Regions from separate parts of the Homo sapiens genome. Here region 1 is linked to region 2. Evidence: fine-mapped expression QTL. Tissue or cell type: aorta. Region 2 holds a variant in brackets; the other region holds the start of a gene. All regions are shown on one strand. Distances are from middle to middle.

Region 1 (8,102 bases), 120 kb after region 2:
GTAAAGAGATAATTTTTGTAGCTTAAAATTAATTTATTTAACAAATATAGCTATAATATAAATGATAATAAAATTTCAAATATACAGTATATTACATAGTACACACAATCCCTTCCAAAGGGATGTTTGAGAGCCACACAAATGTACTGTTAAATAGAAAGAGTTTTTTTTTTTTTTTAATTTTACAATTGTGTTTCTGGTACTGGTAAGAGAGAGGTCCCTTCAACCTACCTTTGCAACACATCTGTGTTTTCCCTGCCCCCCAGAGCAAATGTTTTGTTGTTGAACTTGTCTTAAATTTTCCAATGGAAGAAGCTAGGATTCATCTTCCTGGCTGGCTAGTCTTTTTTTTCTCTTTTCTTTTTTTTTTTTTTTTTTTTTTTTTTTTTTTTTTTTGAGATTGTTCTCATTTCCAAAATCGTCAGACACCGATTTCTCTGCGCTTTTCTTGCCTGGTGTCAGGACAGGGAAAAGCTATGCAGGAGACATGGCCTCTAGCTCTGTTCAACTGTCAATTCTGCTGGGGACCTTAGATAAATCTGTTAACCTCTCTGCCCTCAGTTTCCCCATCTTTAACTCGAGAGTGTAGATCTAAATGCTAGAAGAGTACTAAGGGACTCTTCCAGCCACTTTTTGGCAGGGATCAGACTTCGGAGAGTGAACTCAGGGAGCAAAGAGGTGAAACTGGAGCAGTGTGAGGGTTAAAGGGAAGGCGGCTGGCGGTGCCGAGCAGGGGAGCACGTCGGGGGTACAGCACCAGGGCTGGAGGAATCGGCTGGCCCACAGGTGGGCGACCTGGGACCCTCTATGTCAGGTGGTACATGCTGTAGCCCACATGGGCCGTGTAGAGTCCCACGGGCGCCACAGGCAGCGCGGCGCGCTGGAAGGGGCCAGAGGCACCGTAGAGCGAGGCACCCGCCGCGGCCGCTACAGCTGCGGGGCCGCCGAGAGGGAAGGAGAGGCCGAAGGCAGCCGGTGGCAGCATGGGCTTGGCGGCCATCTTCAGCTTCTCCAGCTCTGCCTCTTGTAGTCTCTTTGCCTTGGCGCGGCGGTTCTGGAACCATATCTTCACCTGCGTCTCAGTGAGGCTGAGCGAGCTGGAGAACTCCGCGCGCTCGGCGATGGACAGGTACTGCTTCTGGCGGAACTTGCGCTCCAGCGCCAGCAGCTGCGCGGTGGTGAAGGGCGTCCGCGGCTTACGGTTCGTCTTGTGTTTGCGGAGGGTGCAGGCTGGGGGGCTCAGCCGCCCTGAGGGCCGAAAGAAAAAAAAAGCAAGGGGTTAAGAGAGAAGCATTGGAGCATGATCAGCCCAAGAAGTAGTAATAATAGCCAAACAATACCAGATATTGAGTGCCGCCAAGTGCCTCGGTGCCGGGCATCGCGCAAGGCACTTGAAATATATTTTCTCCAATTCCCATTGCAACCCCGCAGGGGAGAAGTTCCTGTCTACTTTTTGCAAATGAAGAAACTAAGATTCCAGGAGAAAAATACCCACGTTGAAGGCTCGATGTCCACATCTTAGGCCTAAACAGCTGGGAAGATGTGAAATCACCTTTGTGCTGCCCGGCGGCTTAGGAAGGCCTTCATGGCGGGCCTCCTCCCAGGGCCATCCAGAGGAAAGGTGGATGTTAATACAGTTGACGAACATGCAGAAAGAGGCCCTGCGCCCAGCCCAAGGGCACATTTAGTTTTACGCGTTGGCCAAACATTTATCAGTGCCCACGGAGTGCTTCAGTGTGGGGCTAGGCAGTTTTGTGGCATAGAATCCAAATCAAATTCTACACTTTCCCCGGAACACTTCGCTCCTACGGGATTCTAGGAGTAGTTCCCGCAGACCAGAGATGGAGCAGCGCAGACCATCATGGAGGGTGCACTGTGGCCAGCCCTCTTAGAAACAGAAAGTGTCATCTGGAGCGGAGAACGAGGGGCTGCTTTATTCTAATGGGCTTTTTCTTTAGATTGTCTCAGTCCTCTGTTGGATCGCGTTCACCCCTGGCGCCAGGGCCCTCTGGCCCCACTCAAACGTTTGTGTGTGTGTGTGTGTGTGTGTGTTGATGTTGTTGCGGGGGGAGTGTTGAGATCGCCTCTCCCCTCAACCTGTGGCATAGTCAGCAGACATCAACATGCCCAGCTGTCTTTTTCTTTTGGCTTCAAAATAAACCTCAAGGGTGGACAGTGAAGAAGCATCAGAGCGCAGGACTAGTGCAGGTCGGGGATGGGGTCTGCTGGGGACTGCCCCCGGATAAAATGTGGAACAAATTATCCCAACACAGCCGGGATCGCTTTGACTTCGGGGTCTTGGGGCCCAAGGCCCTAAGCGTTGGAAAGGACACTTTGCCTATGCAGCAGCTTTCCCGGCAGAAAGTGAATTCAAATCGAAGATGTTTCACCACGCGGGTTTTGCCTAAGTATGCATTTTTTCACACCTCTCTAAAAAACAACCACAAACAAACAGAAAAAACAAAACAAAACAAAGAAAACACAACGATCCTTTGGACTTTCAGACCACCAGGATGTGAGTCAAACGAAATCTCGTGTTAACACCCCGCTTCTTCCCTGCTGGAGGCCACCGGGAGTCCGGGAAGCGCTTGGCCCCCAACTAGCTTTCCGCCGGGCCGCCCGAGGGGCGGGCGCCGAGAGAAACGTCACTCCCTTCAGCGGCGACAACCCAGAGCGGGGCCACCTTCTCCGGCCATTAGGCTTAGGGAGGGACTGGCCTTTCAAAGACGTTTAATCCCCAGATAAAAATCATTCCTCAGCATCACGCCATTGAAATCTGGCTGCTATTATGCCGAGCAAAATAATCGGAGGAAACGAGGAAAACTTGGGAATTTCCCGTGCTCCTGAAATATCTCCGAGCGTGTTCTCTGAGTAGAGCAGCCAGGGGGCCGTGAGGCCTTGGAGCGAACCGCCTTGGGCACCTGGAGTCCACTTTAATGGCTCAGTCCTAGACGTTTGGGAGCTTCCCATAGGATTAGCGGGGGCGCCTTCCCCTAATTGACTTGGTGCCCCGCCCCCTCCACTGGAACCTGAATGTCCCCACCCCTGAATCATCCATCCGCCCAAAGCACCAACTATCTGCCTCAAACTCAAAGGGCATGGGGAGGTAGAATTCTGTAGGAGCTTCGGAACCTCTAGGCAAAGAGGTACTTGAAAGGGAAGAGGGGCTGGGGGACACCAGCTCCTACTGCGAGAAAGTGAAACTCCGGGTGCAGGGAAGATACCGCACCACACACATTCATCCGCTGGGGTGAAGCCGATGAAACAGAGTTTGGGATCAGATGAGGGATCATGGACCCCTGAGGTCGTTTGGTGGGGGCAGGAGGACAGGGTGCCCAGACATCGGTGTCCTATCCGTTAACTCCCACCCGCAGCGTCTCTGGGCCAAGGCGAGGAGGTCTGGAACCTTCTTCCTGGGTGGGAGTGGAGGGAGGCGCAAGACCCGGCCTTGCAGCCCACGGCTCCCTAGCACCGGCTGCAGGTACGCAGGCGCCGGAGGCCACCAGGAGCCCTCGGGTCCCACACCCCACCCGGCCCCCACCCGGCCCCCTCCCTCTGCGCCTGGGTTCTGGCTACTCACTGGCCGGCGGCGGGGAGAAGCGGGGGCTCTGCATCCACGGGGTCCTCTCGGGCTTCTCGGGGCTCTCGGCTTTGACGAGCGCATCTTCTGGCAGCTTGAGGAGTCCCCCCACCGAGAAATGGCCGAGCGGCCGCGGCGAAGAGGGCGCGTCCGGGGCTCCCAGCGACCCCGGCGGGACGCCCAGTGGCTGCGCCGAGCCACCCGCCGCCTGCACGCCCTCGGAGGGCGCCAGGGCGCTCTCCTTGGCCCCCGGCTTCCTGTGGTCGGCCATGAGCGCCTCCACGCTGAAGGGCAGGAGCGAAGGGGACACTTTGGGCTTGGCCCCCTCCTCGTCCGCGCCCATGGCGGCTGCCGTGGCCGCGGCGGCGCTGGGGGCCTGGCCCGCGCCTCCCCCCGCCGGCTTGCCGAAGGCGGAGTCCTCCACTTTGACACCGAGTGGCAAAGAAGTCATGTCAGCAGCCGGGGCCATGCAGAGCCGGGCCCCCCCTTCTGCCGCAGCACTGGCCAGCCGCCGGGCATGGGCTCCGGGCGGGCTGGGAGCGCGGCCGGCCTCTGCGAGCGCCCGGGGCCCTGGCCGGGCGGACCCTCCCGCGCGCGCCTCCCGCCCCTCCCCAGCAGGCCAGCTCCGGCGTGCTGGGCCTGGCCTCCGGTCGCTGCCGCCGCGCAGGCAGAGTTCCCGGGAGCACTCGCCGGCTCCGGGCCCTACCGCGGCTCCCCAGAGAACTTGCTAATAAGGCGAGGCCAGCGGGGCGGCGGCCAATCAGCGCGCGAGGGGGCGGGCCCGGAGCGATCCATTGGGCCGCGCTCCTGGGGACTCGCCCGGAGGCGCGCTGGGCCTGGGGGCACGCAGGGCAGGGCCCAGGCGGCGGAGGGCAGGGGAGGAGAGGGGGTGCCCGGGAAACTTTCCTCTGCGCTGAAGCCCAAGAGGCCCTCTCTGCGGGAGTCCCCTGGGTCTCTATCTTTCTGTGTTCCCGGGGGATTTTCCCTTGTTCTCGTTCCTTCTCTTCTGCCCTCCTCTCCTCCCCTCCCCTCCCCTCCTCAGCCCTCTTTTCCGCTCCTCTTTTTTTCCCCGTCCTTGTTTCTCTCCTCTACTGCTTCTTTTACCTTTCTCTTTAGTCTGTGGCTGGGTTTCCCTGTGCCCCCCTCCACTGTCTGACCCCCCCTCTTCTTCTACCACAATAATTTGAGTTGAGGTTATTTCTTACACATTCCTTTTATATATAGTTTTTAAAATACGCATGGCTATTTATCCTAGGAGAAAGACATACTATTAACTTCTTTTCAAGAAACGAAACAAAACCAAACCTTCATTTTCTTCCTGTTCTGAAATCTTGTAAACTTTACCTCGAGGTAAAAGTGGGCCTTTGTCTCTAACTTAGAGCTGGAGTAAACCTTGCGGGAAGAAGCTAGCTTCCTGTAGTGCCAAGGATGTGAGAATACGTAAGATTATCTAGAATCTGCAGTCGGTTTTCATACACGATGTGTATTCCCCCCCCCCCACCCTCGCTCTGAACTTCTGTCCCAAGGGTCACAACACCTATAGCGCCCGGGCGGGGAAAGGAGCTGCCAGATCCTTTTGATATAGAACTTACTGAAATAAAACCAACAGAATCGTCAATGAAACACCGATCTGGCCTTAAGGTGACCTCAAACAACGCGTCCTCGGAAACAATGACATGTCCCTATCTCTGGGCCGCTGATCCTGGAGGGGAGAGGCACATTTGGGGGAGGGGGCTGGGAAAAGAGGAAAGTTCCTGGAGGTGGACTCTAGTGTGGGACTTGAGAACTCTTCTTTTGCCAATTTCGGAGAAAACGTGATTTAATGTTTGCTGTTAATAATAATAATAATAATAAAGACAGAAAAAATGAGTTGGGGTCAGGGGAGATGCAAGATCTGCCTGAAGCGGGGTCGGGGCTTGGCCATTTTCTGCGCCTGTCGCTTTATGGCCTCTCCTCCTGCGGCCCAGGCCAGCGGCTCTCAGGGAGTGAGCGGAGGTGATTGGCGGCTCACTCGGCCCTGCCATTGATGACTGCGGGGTTCTAATCTCCAGGAAACACAAGGGGCTGCCGTGGCCATTTAGGGGTAATTATCCGAGCGCGGAGGGACAGCGAATTCCCTCGACTTTTAACTGGGCGCAATAAAAGCTGTAGATTAGGGGCGTCCAGATTAGGGAAAATGAATTAGAGCGGGAACTTTATTATCCGGAAGACGTCCGGGGTCTGGCGGCAGGGGTCGGGCTGCGGACGCCGGAGCGATTGGTAGCCTCCCATCTGTCCACAGGCCGCCGAGATATGCTGAGGCCTGGGGAAGTTCGGGAATACCGGCATCTGAATTTTACGCACATCTCCAGGTTTCTAAAGGACCCAAGACTGCAACTCAGGCACTGGGCAGTGGTTGGGGCTTCTAGCTCGAGTTGGGCCGGCTGGACGCGCGGTGCACCGGGGCCTCCGGAGGTTTGCCCGAGAGGGTACAAGGATAGAAGACCTTAAGACCCAATTTTGAAGCTCAGCTCGCTGAGGCTGAGCAAGGCTGTAGGGCAAATACCTTGCTGGTAGCCCAGCCAGGACAGCGAACAACAGCATCTTCCTCTTCTTCCTCTTCTTCTTCTTCTTCCTCTTCCTCTTTTTCTTCCTCTTTTCTCCTCCTCCTCATCCTCCTCTTCCTCCTCTCCTCCTCATCTCCTCCTCCTCCTCCTCCTTCTTCTTCCTCTTCCTCTTCTTTGAGACGGAGTTTTGCTCTTGTCGCCCAGGCTGGAGTGCAATGGCGCGATCTCAGTTCACTCCAACCTCCGCCTCCCAGGTTCAAGCGATTCCAGGACGGCGAACTTCTATTGCTCCCGTTCTAATCAAACTCTCGTCAGAACAACCCCCTCCGCACCCAGCCAGAATCTCCCTTTGTGGCCAGGTTAAAGGGGGAGAGGAAACAGAGGCCTATCTGCTTTTGGGGCCATTTAAAAAGCGAGCAGTGTGCCTTTTCGAGTCTTTGCTTAGTTCCGCCCTCGCCCTCCTTCTGCAAATGTTTTGCTCCCAGGTCTCTTTAAGAATCTGATACAGCCAAGAACTTCTTCCCTAGAAAAATGCACACCTACAAAAACACATTACAAGCAACGGGGCAGACAACTTCGGGGGCTCTGGTCCCAAGTGGAGTCCTCCAGTTAAGAACCCCTGCTTTAGGGCTGAGCGGGGGCTTGAACTCAGAGAGCGAAGCCGCATGGTGCAGCGGGGGCTAGTGTGGAACTTGCGGCGGTCGCAGTTGAGGAGCGCAGCAAGGCCTGGACTCCGCCGCGGGGGGGGGGGGGGGGGCGGGGGGCCCGGGGGCGGGCGGCCTGAAAAGGGCCGCATCGCTAATTGCGGGGATAAACAATGTGTCACGATTCCTCAGCGCGCCTAATAGGCAGACTAGGATGTTGTTTTAAGGCGCCAGCGGCGGCCGGATCAAAGGCTGCACCCGGCGCACGGGCCCTTGAAGTCGCGCCCCTGCCTCCGGGGAGCAAATCGCCTGGCCCCGCAGCACCGGCCCCGCAGCCAGCCCCTCGGCTTCCCGAGCCGGGTCTGAACGCCACGGTGTCTTCTTTATAGGTTCGGCCTGGGTTCGTGTCTGCTGTCGCCCCGCGCGGCAGGTTAACCGCGTGTAAACGTTGCTAGGCGAGAAGAGTGCATCGGCAGAGAAGGGGGTTCAGACTCAATTCCGTGTCAGAAAAGCGCGGGGCTTTCCCATTGCTCTGCCCCTGGATTGCGAGAGAAAGAAAGGTGCCGGCAGTCTCAAGAGAAAGGAGTCAGATAAAAGAAATAAAATGTCTGCCTGTTTCCCAGGGCGTTGTTTGTTCCCGCGGGAGGAAAGCCACGAGTTACAGGGGCAGTGAGAGGGAGACTTCTCTGAGTTATTTTTTGTCTAGGACTTTACCGATTTCCCGGCCCAGGGGTTCAGCGAGCAGGCAGGCCCTGGGGCTGAGCCTGTTATCTCGCCGCCAGCTCTAACCTCGAGGCGTTTGTACCCCCGGCATTTCTCTGCGCTGCCGCTGCAGCCGAGAAAGCCGGGCAGTAATTCATGCCTGGCAAGGGCAGGGCTGGCCCCAGCAGATAAAGCTCGGGGACTGGCGCTCCGCTTCCATCCTCTAGACTTCTCTCCCCTCCCCTCTCGCTCCATCTCCCCTCATTTTCAGGCATCCTAAAGCACTCCCCGCCCCCAAGTAGAGGGCCTCTGCATTTCGGATCCTGAAGATGGATTATCCTTCGTCTACTTTCTGGGCAACTAAACTGGTGGTGGGTTTAGCTGGTTTTTTTTTTCCCCCAAAATTTTGCGGGGGTTGGGGGGATGGAGGCAGGGATGGTGGTGTTGCTAAGTATACACCACTCCCGTGCAAAGATTAATTTTTAGAAGGACCCCGTCCTAAAGACGGTTATCCCTATCTGGGTATTGCTGCACCGGTTGGAAGAGCCTGGAGGCTGACTTCTCACTTCGGCATTTGTTGTCGCCTCCGTCGGGTTTTTGTTTATGCTCCCTCCCTCTCTTTCCACTGCA
Region 2 (8,102 bases):
GTCATAGGACCTCCTTCTTCTCCCTTGTCCTGAACTAGACCCTCCCCATCCTGCCATCCCTGGGGTTCCTGGCCTCCTGTCTCACTCCCTCCTTCATCAGACACTCTGCAAATCTCCACCCTAGGAGAAGAAGAGGAAAAGACCCTGTGTGTCCATCACAGGGAAGATGGAGGGGATGCAATGCCCTGGCGTATAAGTGACAGATTTCACCACCACTTCACAGCAACATGATGGATCTTAAGACCTCACACAAGGCTGAGAAGGAAGAAAGAAAGAAGGAAGGAAGGAGAAGGAAGAAAGGACAGGAGGAAAGAAAGAAGAAAGGGAGAAATTGAGATATAGGACCCAACACGTCCTACAAAAATATATATATCCATACAAATAGCAGCACATATTTTATAATTGAAAAGTACACGTCAAAACTGTAGAACGGTTGACTATGGGACGAACGGAGCTGGGATATGGGGCTAAGAGGGAAGAAATCAGAGAAAATAAAGGCTTTCTCCTACTAGATGGGGATGAGGTCAGGAAATAAGAATATGATCACCACAACCCTCTGCATATGAGGCTCCATAAGAAAGAAAACATAAGGAAAAGCTAAGCACAGACACAGACACACACACACACACACACACACACACACACACAGGCAAATCCTACTGTAAAAATGACCTGTTTTTTGATTATTCCAATGAGCCATGCTTGCTGCATGCCAGGCTTTGGACATGCAATTCCCTCTGCATGAAATGCTGTTCCCTACACTTTCAGCCACTCAACTTTGCCCGTCCTTCAGCTGTCTCCATTTCCTGTCCTTCCCCCACCTGCCCCACCTGGGCCAGGTGGCCATACCTGTTGTATTAGTCAGCTCAGGCTGCTCTAACAGAACACTACAGACCAGGCAGCTTAAAGAACAGGAGTTTCTTTTCTCACAGTTCGGCAGGCTGGAAGTCCAGGATAAAGGTGCAACAGGGTTGGTTCCTGGTAAGGCCTCTCTACCTGGCTTGTAGACAGCCACCTTCTTGCTGTGTCCTCACACAGTCTTTCCTGTGTGGATGCTCGAGGGGAGAGGGCTCTGGTGTCTCTTCCCCTCCTTATGAGGACACCAACTGTACTAGATTGGGGCCCCACTCTGATGGTCTCATTTCACCTTAATCACCTCCCTAAAGGCCCTATCTCCAATGACAATCACACTCTGAAGTATGGGGTTTCAGGGCTTCCACATGTGAATGTGGGTGAGGGGGACACAGTTTAGCCCCCAACACCCCTCCTGCCCGTGTTCGCTTTCCTTCAACAGTTTCTCACGCACCTGCGCGTATCCGAGGCTATCCTCTGAGCACACCCATGTCAGGACTCACGCACCTTCCATGGTCATCCTCGCCTGCTCAAACACACCTTTGCCCCCTCCTCCTTGCCGCAAAACTCACAGACCCGCATGATGTTTCAGTGGGCAAATGCAAAGGTCCCTCTCAGCCCACGTCCCTGGGACTTCCCCATGAGAGCCTGCCTTGCCTGGTCCTTGGGCTCTGCCCTCTCCTCTCCTTTCTCTGCTTTTCACCCCAGCAGTGGCTTCTTGCTGCTTCCACATGCCAGCCCGGCTCCCCTGGACCCACTCCCATTCCTCTCTGCATGGTTCCTGGGGGGTCTCTCCACACCATGACCCCCTCTTACGTGGTTCACTGGCCATGTGGATGCCACAGGCCCCTCCAGCTCTGTACAGCATGAATGAATTCATCTCTTTCCCCCACAAGCCTATTCTCTGTCTGGCCCCACCACTGGTGACACTGGAGACCTGGGCATCCTCTGTGACTCCTCCGTCAATCCCTCCATTGGACCAACCACCAAATGCTGTCCTTCCATCCTGCTGCTTGTCTCAGCTCCCTGCAGGTTGGGGATTGCTTTGCTGTGCAGGGACACCAAGATGTGGGAAGCAGAGGCTGGACTCAAGAGTCCTGCCAGAGGCAGATTTCGAGACAAGCAAGTGAAGGCGGTTGGATAGATGGAGAGGAGGGTGTTCAACTGGTCTGCTCATGGCTCCATCCCCACCAAGAAACAGAGACTCTCAAACTGTTTAATACAAATACTTTAATACAAAGACTTTAATACAAAGACTACTCACCAAGTTGTGAACGAGGTTTGGGTAACCAGCAAGAGACAGTGTAGAACCCAGGGGCTAAGGGCAGGGGGTAGTGTCACTGCTCCTAGGCCCGATGGGGAGTGAGGGGGTGGTCTCTGGAACGGAGACAGAAACACAAGATGGGAGCAACGGGCCAGAGCAGTGGGGCTCTAGCAGACAGAAGCAGCCCGTCCTAAGCAACCTCATGTGTTCATGTATGTATGTATGTATGTATTATTATTATTATTATTATTATTAGACGGAGTTTTGCTCTTGTTGCCCAGGCTGGAGGGCAAAGATGTGATCTTGGCTCACCGCAACCTCCGCCTCCCGAGTTCAAGCGATTCTCCTGCCTCAGCCTCCCAGGTAGTTGGGATTACAGGCATGTGCCACCACGCCCAGCTAATTTTGTATTTTTAATAGAGATGGGGTTTCTCCATGTTGGTCAGGCTGGTCTCAAACTCCCGACCTCAGGTGATCCGTCCACCTTAGCCTCCCAAAGTGCTGGGATTACAGGCCTGAGCCACCACGCCTGGCCATATGAATATTATTTCGGTATGATAAGGCCAGCAGATTGGGAGAGGACTGACACTGAAAAGATCATTTGTCCCTTAGAGTTCCCAATAAGAAAGGGCCCACCATGCTATGAAGAGCCACTGGGGAAACACGTAGGTGGGTCAGGAGACAGGGAGGGGAGACACAGTAGGCAAGAACCTCCATTGAGGTTTTGATTGGAAGGAATGAAAGAGGCAGGGCAGGCAGGCTTAGGATTGCTGGTTTGAATAATTTTAGCTGATCTGGGGCTCAGAGTTGCTGCCCTGCATTGTCTGGTTTCCAGCCCTGGGATGATCAGGGCAGGTGGAGTGTGACAGCCCCATAGGGGAGGAGGTGGAGGGTGTGGGCTCTGGATCAGTTGGTTGGCGTTTGAAAAGCACACTCTTGAGCGAATTGTTGACCATTTCTAGATTGGCCAGCCCTGGGAGGGGCAGTCCCTCCAGGATTAGCAAGGCCTCAGACGTCAAAGAATCTGAATACAGAACACAAAAGACACGTGCATACACCACACAGAGAGGGAGTTAGGGGAACCAACACCCATTCCCACTCTTCTCCCGCCCTCAGATCTCCTGCTGATGTCGCCCCTTGGCCAAACCCAACAGGAATCTGGAGGGTGAGAAAGATGGCTGGGACAGTCAGGGAGGGGAGTGGCTCTGAAGAGGGACTGGACTCAGCAGCCACTAAACTAAGCTCCCGTGCAGACAAGAGTTCTTTATTCCTTTTGAAATCTTCCCAATACGTGCTGGTTGAATGGAGATGCAATCAGCCTGGGGAGATACAACACGGCTTGCAGAAGGAAACGCATCCTGAGCTGGGTTTTGAGGGATGAATAGGCATTTTCCAGGGAATGCTAGACACATAAATGGAAGAGCATAAGCAAAGGGATGGAGATTAACACAATATGTTTGGCAAGCTGCAAGCTTTGCAACAGTTCTGGATTGTGAAATTTCTGGGGAGGAGGCTGGCACAGAGCAGATTCCCTGGGAGTGTCTCTGCCCTCGGTCATTTCATTCTCCTCTATGGGCCTCTCTGCAAAGCAATGTGTTCATGTGTGTAAAGTGCTTCCAAGGGGGCTGGTACAGAGGGAAATACTTGGTAAATAGTGGTGATTATCATAATGATTATTAGCATGCCTAATAATATCACCTCCCCTACTTTCCCGGCCTCTGGGGTACCTCAAATTGGACACCATATTAGAAGTTCTTTGCAAAACAAAGGACCAACAGAACTCAAGGCAGAAGCAAGGCCACAGGGCTCAGGCAACCATCTCCTGTGGGTAATAGTCTGGTTTCAGGGCAGGTGAGCCAGCCCAGAAGTCAGGCCCAATGGCTCCGGCGCTCTGAGACAGGGACGATGGCTGGCCTGTTTGGGATTCCCTAGCCTCATCGATCAAATGATCCAGGGATGAGGGAGAATGCCAGGGTCTATTTCCCATCTGTGATCAGCCTTGACTCCAAGCCCATACTCCACACCCAGTTTTCTGGAAGAGGGAGAAATAGCCCTCGAGGGCCAAAGAATATAATACCCTTGGATGCCCCAGCTGTGTGAGACCGTCTGAGA[C/G]GCCTTTATCACTGCACACAGCGGCTGCCAAAGTCAGACCTAACTCCTTCCCAGGAAATTCTTGGCTCTGCTTGTGAGCAGCCCGTCTGGTGGAATTAATTTCAGCCTATATGATGCTAACGCCATGAGAACAGAGACATATAAAACAGTCCTCCCAAGGCTTTGCGTGGCAATAAAGACTGAACCGTGCTTAATTTATGCACATTGCAAGGCTACCCTCTGCAGGAAGCATAAAGCCATCCCTTGTGGGGGCTGGAACAGTAAGGGGCTCCTCTTGACCCTGGGCCTCACGGAGGGAGCTCATTCCCTCTTCCCAGGCTCCTTCCATCTTTCTGCGTGGATTGTGGATTTCCAGACTTGGGCTCTGGCCTTTATCAGTGAGACAGCCATGGTGTAGGGGATCTGCAAGGGCTGTAGAACTGGAGGTGGAACTATGTACTTAGTTCCATGCAAACCACTGAGGAAGGGACACTCGGGAGGTGATCTGCATCCTGGAGTCATGGGGCTATCATCTGCTAATGCTAGAGAGAGATTTTGAGATCATCTAATTCAGACCCAGGTGAGTTCAGAGATTTAAAATGATGGAACCAAAGTCACACAACACACTCATGGAAGGATCTGGACTTTGACATCAGAATAGGGGTGGGGCAAGTTCAAAAATGTGGAGTTGGAGAGTCCCGGGTTAGAACCCAGACTCTGCCAGGTCCTTGCTTTCTGACTTCAAGCAAGTTATTTCAACTCTGTGTTTCGTTTCCTTGTTCATAAAGTAAGTGCACCATGGGAATTCTGGGAGAATTAAAGGAGATAGTGTTTGTTCAGCATAACCACATGCCCAGCATATGGTAAATATCCAGCAATAGTAGCTATTGCTGTTATGGCTTCTGAGTAAATGCATATTTTAGTGTGGGTTTCTTTCAAGCTAAGACAGGGATTTAGGTATAAGTAGTGATACGTTTTCGATCTGTGTCCCCACCAAAATTTCATGTCAAATTCTAATCCCCAAAGTTGGAAGTGGGGCCCAGTGGGAGGTGACTGGATCATGGGGGTGGATCCTTCATGAATGGCTTAGCGCCGTCCCCTTGGTGCTGTTCTTATGATAGTGAGTGAGTCATCACAAGATCTGGTTGTTTAAAAGTGTGTAGCACCTTCTCCCTCTCTCTCTTGCTCCTGCTCCTGCCATGTGAGATGCTTCACTCCCCGTTTGCCTTCCGCCATGATTGTAAGCTTTCTGAGACCTCCCCAGAAGCTGAGCAGATGCCAGAGTCGTGCTTCCTGTACAGCCCGTGGAACTCTGAGCCAAATAAACTTTTTTCCTTATAAATGGCTGTCTCAGGTATTTCTTTATAGCAGTGTGAGAATGGACTTAAACACGTGGCTTGTTAAGGAAGATGATCCCAGGAAGCAGGAGTAAGGGAACAAGGCAAATGAGACAGGAAAGCAGGAAAAGAAACCAGTGTGAGGGTTTGCTATTGTCTTAGTCCATTCACGCAGCTATAACAAAATACTATAAACTGGGTGGCTTATAAACAACAGATATTTATCTCTTACAGTTCTGGAGGCTGGCAAGTCCAAGACCAAAGCACTGCAGATTTGGTGTCTCGAGAAGCCTGCTTTATAGTTTCCAGATGAGGCCTTCTTATGGTTTCTAGATGAGGCCTTCTTATGGTTTCTAGATGAGGCCTTCTTATGGTTTCTAGAGGAGGCCTTCTTATGGTTTCTAGAGGAGGCCTTCTTGCTGCATCTTCACATTGTGGAAGGGGCAAGGGAGCTCTGTGGGCCTCATTTGTCCCAGTCATGAGGTCTCCACCCCCATGACCTAATCATCTCCCAGAGACCCTGCCCTCTAATACTATAATATTGGTGATTAGCTTTCTACACAGGAATTTGCAAAGATACAAACATTCAGACTGTTATGACAGTTACCACGAATGCTGCTGTGGACAATGGGAGCTCAATTCTGCTGGGGAACTTTACAGAGAAATTTATAAAACTATCAAGGATATAAAAAAGACCTAAATAAATGAAGTGATGGAGCAAGGAAGAACCAGAGTGGTATTATATTGTTTTTTGTTTTTGTTTTTGTTTTTGAGATGGAGTCTCACTCTTGTCACCCAGGCTGGGGTGCAATGTTGGGATCTTGGTCACTGCAACCTCCACCTCCTGAGTTTAAGCAATTCTCCTGCCTCAGCCTCCCAGGTAGCTGGAATTCCAAGTGGGTGCCACCATGCCCAACTAATTTTTGTATTTTTACTACAGACGGGGTTTCGTCATGTTGGCCAGGCTGGTCTCGAACTCCTGACCTCAAGTGATCCACCCACCTCAGCTTCTCAAAGTGCTGGGATTACATGCATGAGCCACTGTGCCCAGCTGGTGTTATATTGTTAAAAGCAAAACCATAGACAAGTTAAAATTAAAAGAGTTTAGTTGAACAAAGAATGATTTGCAAATCAGGCAAACTTCTGAACCAGAGTAGGCTCAGAGACTCCAGCACAGCCATGTGGTGGAAGAACATTTATGGTCAGAAAAAGGAAAGTGACCTACAGACAATAGAATTGAGGCACAGAAAGAGCTAGATGGATTATAGCTCGGCATTTGCCTTATTTGAAAAGTTTGAACATTTGGCTGTCTTTAATTCGCCCAAACACAGTGACTGGCGCAAGAGTAGGTTAGTTTGTTTACACATCCAATTCAGTTGCAGTTTATTATGTACAGATACAACTTTAGACTGAACGTAAAATGTATAAGGAGGCAGCTTTAGTCTAAACTTGATTTAACAATATTAGTTAAGATCTGGCCAGGGAAAGAAAAAATATTCTGGGAACTCTAAGGATGAAGAGACACGATACAGAATTGGAGGTTTTCATAGTCTTTGGAAAGTTGAGGGAGCAAAACCCAGGAAGGGCACGGTCAGGAATTCTGAGGGTTCTGGGATCACAGGGCAGATGCTGGAGCCCAGTGTGAGTGCTTCTCAAAAGGATGCTCAAAGTTGTGGTCAAAATTCCTTGTCTGTGCTTTGCCATACACACAGAGTCCCAGAGAGAAGAAATAGGCCTTCACTTCCTCCTTCCAACCTCATGCCAGTGCCTCGCATGATGGACTCTCACTGGGCCCATGAACAACAGAGTCTGGGAAATGTAGTTTTCGGGCTCCATGATCCAGAGGCACAGGGAAGAGCTCAGGATGATGAGGCTGGTACTGAGAATGAAGACACAATATTTGACACAGACATAGATATTGATCCCTTTCCACCCCCAGATTTATTGGCAAATGCAATGAGATGTCAACTGAATCCTCGAGAATTGTAAGAGTCATAAAAATGAATAAAAATATGAGGATAACCAAGATATTGTTGAATAAAAAGAAGAAGAAAGAGGCACCAGAGAAGGAGAAAGGGTGTGTTCAGGGTCCCAAGACCACCCCAGGTTTAATGATTCACCAGGAGACTCACAGGACTTGACATGTGGTCACCCTCATGGCTATAACTTATGACAGTTAAGGATGCAAAGCAAAATTATCAAAGGGAAAAGGCACGAGGGCAAAGTCCAGAGAAAACTGGGTGCAAGCTTCTAAGGGTCCTCTCCAAGTGGAGTTGCATGGGACTCACTTGATTCTTCCAGCAATGTGCTATGACAGCACATCTATCAGGGAAGGCCACTGAGACTCATTGTCCAGGGTTTTTACTGCTGGCTGGATACATGGGCCCCCTCTGCCTGACATGCACCAAACTTCCAGACTCCTGGAAGTAAAGCAGGTGGTTAACATGAACCTACTCTTTGTACAAATGCTTTAGACACAGTGAGCCACTCTTATCAGTTCTGGAAATGGTGGCAACCATCCCCAAATCCAAGTTCCCAGCCATCATTCCACGGCCAAC

Direction of the effects. Positions count from the first base shown, and alleles are read on the strand shown. Sizes are in standard deviations (SD) of each study's normalised expression.
As copies of G replace C in region 2, the expression in aorta of the gene that starts at base 4,284 in region 1 goes down (moderate effect, 0.50 SD a copy in GTEx).

Evidence for each region. PIP is the estimated chance that this variant, and not a neighbour inherited with it, causes the effect.
Region 1: it holds the start of MSX1, and the variant in region 2 is fine-mapped to the expression of MSX1 in aorta (GTEx, PIP above 0.99).

What each region holds. Positions count from the first base shown.
Region 1 is chr4:4,855,847-4,863,948 of GRCh38, reverse strand. MSX1 (msh homeobox 1) reads right to left here and starts at 4,284. Exons shown (of 2, transcript NM_002448.3): 1 at 3,581-4,284; 2 at 13-1,248. The coding sequence starts at 4,049. The coding sequence ends at 806. RefSeq lists an enhancer at 968-1,639 and silencers at 3,693-4,132, 4,143-4,382, 4,403-4,462.
Region 2 is chr4:4,977,133-4,985,234 of GRCh38, reverse strand. The region is part of intron 2 of LOC101928306 (a long non-coding RNA gene); the gene reads right to left. Among named protein-coding and RNA genes, the nearest start is that of CYTL1, 38 kb to the left of the region's middle. The variant C/G (reference allele first, on the strand shown) is at 4,229.